Homo sapiens: one gene and its partner. The protein of the gene in region 1 purifies or fractionates together with the protein of each later gene. This does not show direct contact. Each region holds a gene or a part of one and is shown in the gene's direction. Other genes may lie near its edges.

Region 1 (3,514 bases):
TGTTAAGTGGATGAAAAGTAGGTTATGTAACAGTGTGAACGGTATGTCTCTGAATAATTTTAAGTATGTGTATAGGTTTCAATCTGGAAAGACATATGCAAAAAATGTTAATCCAGCTCATGTCTTAAGTGGGTTTATGGTAATTTTTTACTTCTATATTTAATGTTTGTAATAGTTTTTTACAAGAGGCATTGTTATGATAGAATAATAGCAACATATATATAAAAAATAAGATTAAAGAGGAAATAGACATTACTGTGTTTATTGCTGCATAACAGCAGTGCAGGTGATTATTTCATTCTTTGTATCTTTTTCTTTAATCATGTATTAATTTTAAAACCATGACATTTAAACAAGAAACTTTTAAAGAATAAATGAAAGGGAAGAAGGAGAAAGAATAAAAGCAGCATGCAGAAAACTCTTTAGAATAGTGGAAATGCTAAAGTATGCCATTCATTAATTCACTCATTCACTCACTCGTTTTATAATTACTGACACTAAGTGCCTTCTATGTGCCAGGCCCTGTCTTAACGGGAACATAGTGGTGAAATAAAATTTGTAGTATTCGTGGGGTGGGGGGCTGATAGTTACCAGACGTGGGTGTAATTAAATATAATTGAAAATTGTGGAAGCGTATTATGCATAAAGTGGGTTTTATGAGAATAAGCTCATAGAAGGTTTATATATGTATAAATATACATAAGAGACTGGTTAAGAAAAATATTTAGAAGAATATTTCATAGATATTTAGAAGAATAGACAGTGCAGTCCTACTTAAGAAAGAGATAAGAGAAAGGAAAATAATATAAAAGTAGTTTATTATCTTCATAAGAAATTGAGATATGGTTGCTTAATTTTTTATTTGATAGCAGAGAAGTTTATGTATACTTAAAGCAGAAATGATAATTATAATCTGAAATTTTGAAATGTTATTCTAATAGGAAACTATAAAAGTACTATAAATTCCAAATTTATATGTGAATTAACCAATGTCGATAGCAAAAACCCTAACTGATTACATCCATTATGCATCCAGAACCTTCTTATTACCTGTGGAAGAATTAATTAGAAGGTTTGCTTTATAGCCAGGATACCAACTCAGAAAGAGGACTTTTCTCTTTCAGCATTAAATGAACCCACCATAGACTATGGCTTCCAGAGACTGCAGAAGGTCATCCCTAGGCATCCTGGAGATCCTGAGAGATTAGCTAAGGTAATGTGCTTTGGAAATTGACATGTGAAGCCATTTGTGTAGAATTTCAGGAAACTTAGACAAATGCAGGCATTTACATCCCATTAAAATTAATTAGGCCTTGAAATTTGGCTAAGCTTTAGATACGAGATGCACATAAAATATCTGCTATGAAATATATTATGGTCTTATTTATTAATCTCTGAGGAAATATGAACATTTGAGCTGATTAAACAGATACACGACAGGAGTATTCAGTTTAAAAAACATGGCCAACTTTATGAAAATAAATAACTGCATAATTGGTTAAAAGTATAAGCTTCCACTCCTTTGTATTTAAATGTTTCTATTTAACCATAATTGCAAGGACTCATTAATCCACAATTAGTATTAATTATTGAGGGCCTACTATGTACGTAGGTATCTAATGAGGAGAAAAATGCTTCTGTATAAAATTTCTATGAAATACATCACTTTCAAGTGAACTTCCTTATGAAAATTACTTTATGAATTTGGCCCATGTTGTTAGCTTTCTTTAAAAAGTACATCAATTTATTAGTTGTCATTCAGCTGATGAGAAACTATTAAATTTTCACATTTATATTTGCACTTTAAACACACAAATTATAAAATGCCATATTCTCTTTTGCATACTGTGAATAAAATTTATGCACCAGAGTTGCTTCTACATCACACCTTTATTTTCCTCCTGGAAAAATCCCTAGCCCCACCATTAAATTAGATGATATCTGGAAAGTAGGTTAATAGCAATTTAAAAGGCTGTGTAAAACAGGAGGTGGAAAAGGCAAAATGAGAGGAAAGGGATTCGTGATTACTAATTCTCTGTGGTTAAAGTGTACAGGGGGAAATATTATTGAAAGAATTCATCTTTATTAGAATAAAATTTTGCAGCAGACGTTGCCAAGATAATTTCAGTACTCTGGACAACTCCTTGGCAAGCAGCTAAACTCAAATCCATCAATCATTTTAAGAATATTTGGTTAATTAGAGAACCAGATTTTTAAAACAGAATGGGCTGAAAGTAGCATTTAATAGAACTTCCATGACCTTAATAATTTTAATAAACTATACTCTCAATTGGGTTGTTTTTTGTTTTGGTAACACAATCATTTATAGAGCCATTTTATAGAGGTGAATTTCAGATAGATACGTATTTACAGAGAGATGTACATGTACAATTGTATTCTACCTGTCAAACCAAATATAGGACCTCTTGGCTAATTACTTACATTTTGGGAGGGATGTGTGGATTTCTCATTTTTGCCTATAATTTTCTTTTGTTTGCCATCTTGGATTTTGCCTTTGACAATATCCCATCCTCGCTTATTTTCCAGGAGATGCTGTTGAAAAGAGCTGCAGATCTAGTGGAAGCTCTTTATGGCACACCACACAATAACCAGGTGAGATACTGACATCCTATCCTTTATTGAGTTTTGCACTTTATGCTGGATAGAATGCTCACATTAACCTGTTGTTTTGTAGGACATCATTTTGAAGCGAGCCGCAGACATTGCTGAAGCTCTCTACAGCGTCCCCAGGAATCCCAGCCAGCTTCCAGCCCTCTCTAGCTCCCCAGCGCACAGTGGCATGATGGGAATCAACTCCTATGGCAGCCAGCTTGGGGTCAGCATCTCAGAGTCAACACAAGGAAATAATCAAGGTACCACCTTTCTTAGAGTCAAAATCCAAATATGTCTAATTTAAAAAGTTCTGCTGGAGTGGACAGAGTCAGAGGTTGGGTCATAATGGTCCAACAGAGTGTGTCCACAGATAGGCAATACAATCATAGATTGGGTTATTTCAAGATTATAGATGGTACTTTATTAGAGTTTGAGCTTCTTAGGTACCAGGTAGAATGTCTGGAAATATTTAAGGGGAAGATTGAGTATTACTACCAGGTTTGGTGGCTCACACCTGTAATCCCTGCACTTTGGGAGGCTGAGGCAGGTAGATTGCTTGAGCCCTGGAGTTTGAGACCAGCCTGGGCAACATGGTGAAAACCCATCTCTATAAAAAAATAGCCAGGTGTGGTGGGCAGATGTAGTCCCAACTACTTGGGAGGCTGAGGTGGGAGGATCACATGAGCCTGGGAAGTCGAGGCTGCAGTGAGCAGTGGGGTGCGCTGGCACACTGCAAATGAGCCGAGGCTGCCTGTGCAGTGTGACAGTGCACTCCAGCCTGGGCAACAGAGCGAGAACCTGTCTCAAAAAAAAAAAAAAAAGGATTGGGTATTATCAATTTAGAAGGGTTTGGGCTTATAGAAAATAGGTTTACAGGTATTAATTTAAAAGAAATTTATGC
Region 2 (3,923 bases), on another chromosome or scaffold:
GGAAGGACATGGGTGTGGAAGGGAGGGTAAGCCTCTTCTCCTTCATGAATTATCAGCTCACACCTCTTCTCAGCTCACACCAGGAGGCCTGGCACAGGACAGTGAATCATGCCCAAGAAACTGCCTTGTGGCTTCCTGCCTTCCTCCCTCCCTCCCTATCTTTCCTCTTTTCTTTTCTCTTTTCTTTTCTTTTCCTTTCCTTCCCCTCCCCTTCCTTTCTTCCTTCCTTTCTTTCTTTCTTTCCTTCTCTCTCTCTCTCTTTCTTTCTTTCTTTCCTTTCTTCTTTATCTATCTCTGTTTCTTTCTCACTTCCTTTCTCCCTTCCATGAACCTACAGCTCTATTCAGGAGAACAATGACTGTCCATTGACTTAACACCCATGATAACCAGGCACTGTGTGACGCTGAAGTAGAACAAGGGGCTTTCAGAACCTGGTGGAAGGAGCTGGGCATCAGGTTCAAGGGAGTAACACAGTCGTGGAACATTGGGAAAGGAGGAGCTATTCACATGCCTGAGATGTAAGGATGTCTGGATTTTCCAAGGGCCGCGTCTAGTAAGAGAGTGTGTATTGAGGGCAACTCTGAGTTAGTGACTTGAGGTTCATCCTGTAGTGATCAGAGGAAATGGCTGGTGTATGAACCTAGGGAATCAGCACGCTCCTCTTCCTATGTCACTCCTGGAGAAGAAAGATACCACAAGAGGCAGGGTCTTCAGGGCTGAGCCACAATGTCACACAGATCCAGTCAATCCTGCCTGTCCATCTCAATGACATCTACTATCCCTGATCAACACGGCACCTTAAGGCGCCCTTCACAGTGAAAGCAACTTATTTCCAAAGCAGGCATTTTGCCTTCCATTGCTCCTCCCAGGTCCAAATCCAGTAAGAGACTGAAAATCAGATGATTCACTTATTCTGCACCATCCCCATGGCCTCGCAGAACCAGAAATGCCTATTGTTATTTCCATGTCCACTTCAACCATGAGGAAGCCCAATAGGACTAATCTGGCTAAAGATTAGGGCCCAGGCCAAGAGGCCTGGCTCGTTCTAGTCCTAGGAGCATGGTACTTCCTCCTAATTTAATCCATTGCCATTCAAGAAGACCTTTGCCCACAGCAACCACACCACAAAGGGTGGACAGTGAGTCAGGCCCAGGTGACATCACTGTCAGAGCTTAAGTGACAAAAAATGTTAAGCCAGAGATACTTATCACAAAAGCTGGAATGAAGTTAGAGCAGTCTTTTAAAAAATCCAATTTTCTTAAGGCAGGGCTCATTTTCTATATAAATACCAGCTAACAAGAGACTCTTCACCAGATCCCAGAGGCTGAACACCTCGACCTTCTCTGCACAGCAGGTGAGTCTCCGCATTAGGAACACCTTAATATTCTCCAATAGTTTCTTTATTTTGATTGAGATCTCTTTGCTATGCAATGAATATATTTATTTTAAATGCAATAACGACTTTTGTTTAAGGTGACCTTATACATATTTTGACTTTCCACTCAGATTACAGGTGTGGAACTTAGGATCAGAAAAGGGGAGTGATTTCTGTAAAGGCTTGCTAAGTTAGCAAGACAATATACCCACTTCAAGAGCACTCTCCTGTCAACATGTATTGAAAATTTTTAATATAGAAGGCACTACATTGGCAATTTTGATGATCAAAAGATAAGTTTTTCTTTATTGCATGAATGTATAATCCATTAGAAAACATATACTTGACTAAAATTTGCAAACATACAGCATGGGGAGTGATTAGCAGAGAGGGAAAGCAAGTATCATGCTGTGGCAAAACGAGGAAGGTGAGAGCATCAGGAAGGACAGCCATGAGAGGTGGGCATGTGTGGGGAGGCAGCGATGATGTGGAGAGCCTGCCAGAGAGCATGTGCAGCAGGCACAGTGTGAACAGAGGCTCCCAGGTGGATTGTGGGAGCCTTAGGGGGAAGTTTAGATAAGAGTTCTCCTGGGAGAACTATCGCACTCTATAAGGAGGACATGAGTGAGTAGATTCTAGACTGCTGACCTTAAAATCTTTCCAACTTATGGAAAAACTGAGGTGTCACATCAATCTTCAGCCAATGACACACAGCCAAGAGTGGTATTAAAAGTGATTTAATCAGGGAAGAGCAAGAAACATGCATTTCTTTTCACTCAATTCCTCAGATGATCCCTGAGCAGCTGAAGACCAGAAAAGCCACTAAGACTTTCTGCTTAATTCAGGAGCTTAGAGGATTCTTCAAAGAGTGTGTAAGCGAAAGCTTCAGAGTATATATTTGCATATTTGTATGTGTTTTCATGTTGTACGTAGGTTTTTAGATGTACCAGGAAGAAAAGAAGCATAAAGAAAGGCTCCATTTACACGATGTGGAAGAAATCAACTTTACCTTATTCTCTGGAAGATAAGTGGGGATCACCAAAGCATCCCATGATCTCAAATTCAGGGAAAAAGAAAGAAAAGAGAGGCTCTCAGTTCTGAAGGAGAATGAAATGACAGATATTTGTCATTAAACTGGGCTTCATTCCTACTTAATCAAAGCACTGAATTAGCTGTTTTGTCTCTAGGTCCAGCATCCTTTGAAGCATGAGTTCTTACCAGCAGAAGCAGACCTTTACCCCACCACCTCAGCTTCAACAGCAGCAGGTGAAACAACCCAGCCAGCCTCCACCTCAGGAAATATTTGTTCCCACAACCAAGGAGCCATGCCACTCAAAGGTTCCACAACCTGGAAACACAAAGATTCCAGAGCCAGGCTGTACCAAGGTCCCTGAGCCAGGCTGTACCAAGGTCCCTGAGCCAGGCTGTACCAAGGTCCCTGAGCCAGGTTGTACCAAGGTCCCTGAGCCAGGCTGTACCAAGGTCCCTGAGCCAGGTTGTACCAAGGTCCCTGAGCCAGGCTACACCAAGGTCCCTGAACCAGGCAGCATCAAGGTCCCTGACCAAGGCTTCATCAAGTTTCCTGAGCCAGGTGCCATCAAAGTTCCTGAGCAAGGATACACCAAAGTTCCTGTGCCAGGCTACACAAAGCTACCAGAGCCATGTCCTTCAACGGTCACTCCAGGCCCAGCTCAGCAGAAGACCAAGCAGAAGTAATTTGGTGCACAGACAAGCCCTTGAGAAGCCAACCACCAGATGCTGGACACCCTCTTCCCATCTGTTTCTGTGTCTTAATTGTCTGTAGACCTTGTAATCAGCACATTGTCACCCCAAGCCATAGTCTCTCTCTTATTTGTATCCTAAAAATACGTACTATAAAGCTTTTGTTCACACACACTCTGAAGAATCCTGTAAGCCCCTGAATTAAGCAGAAAGTCTTCATGGCTTTTCTGGTCTTCGGCTGCTCAGGGTTCATCTGAAGATTCGAATGAAAAGAAATGCATGTTTCCTGCTCTTCCCTCATTAAATTGCTTTTAATTCCAGTCTTGGCTGTGTGTGTCATTGGCAGAATCTTCCTCCTTCCTTGTTTCCCCATTGTGAGTCAGGACCTATAGACAGAGAGGAGTTGATGTAGAAGTCATCTATTTAACCCCAGTACTGTTTGTTTCTATGGGTGTATGGGGTTACAGTTGAGGTGTTCCTGGAATGGCAATGGGCCTGGTGTGATGTTGAATAGAAGTTGTCACTTTGGGCAGCCACAGGCTCTCCTCTTGCACTGGACTGAGTCATGCCTGACTCCAAGCCACCTGTTCCAAGACACCTCTGATCCTCAGTATCCTGACAACAAATCTCCTGTTTGTTCCAAGAAAACTTTACTCCTACATATTTTGACTGGACAGTCTATTTTTCTTCATTTGTTTTACCTTCTAGATACCCCACCACACACATACACACACACACACACGCACACACACACACAGAGTCATTCACAAAGAGAAACATTCATTTTAAATAGCCACACAGTCACATAATCATTCACACAAGCTCT

The links.
Region 2: the proteins of EBF2 (region 1) and SPRR3 purify together in Homo sapiens (affinity purification with mass spectrometry; one large-scale study listed by BioGRID and IntAct). This does not show direct contact.

What each region holds. Positions count from the first base shown.
Region 1 is NC_000008.11:25,860,408-25,863,921, reverse strand, and holds part of EBF2 (transcription factor COE2), read left to right. Parts: intron 1-1,124; coding exon 1,125-1,213; intron 1,214-2,547; coding exon 2,548-2,613; intron 2,614-2,695; coding exon 2,696-2,873; intron 2,874-3,514. UniProt on the Homo sapiens protein: Transcription factor that, in osteoblasts, activates the decoy receptor for RANKL, TNFRSF11B, which in turn regulates osteoclast differentiation. Acts in synergy with the Wnt-responsive LEF1/CTNNB1 pathway.
Region 2 is NC_000001.11:153,000,440-153,004,362, forward strand, and holds SPRR3 (small proline-rich protein 3), read left to right. Parts: upstream 1-1,309; 5' UTR 1,310-1,354; intron 1,355-2,163; exon of another isoform or gene 2,164-2,247; intron 2,248-2,562; 5' UTR 2,563-2,581; coding exon 2,582-3,091; 3' UTR 3,092-3,417; downstream 3,418-3,923. UniProt on the Homo sapiens protein: Cross-linked envelope protein of keratinocytes.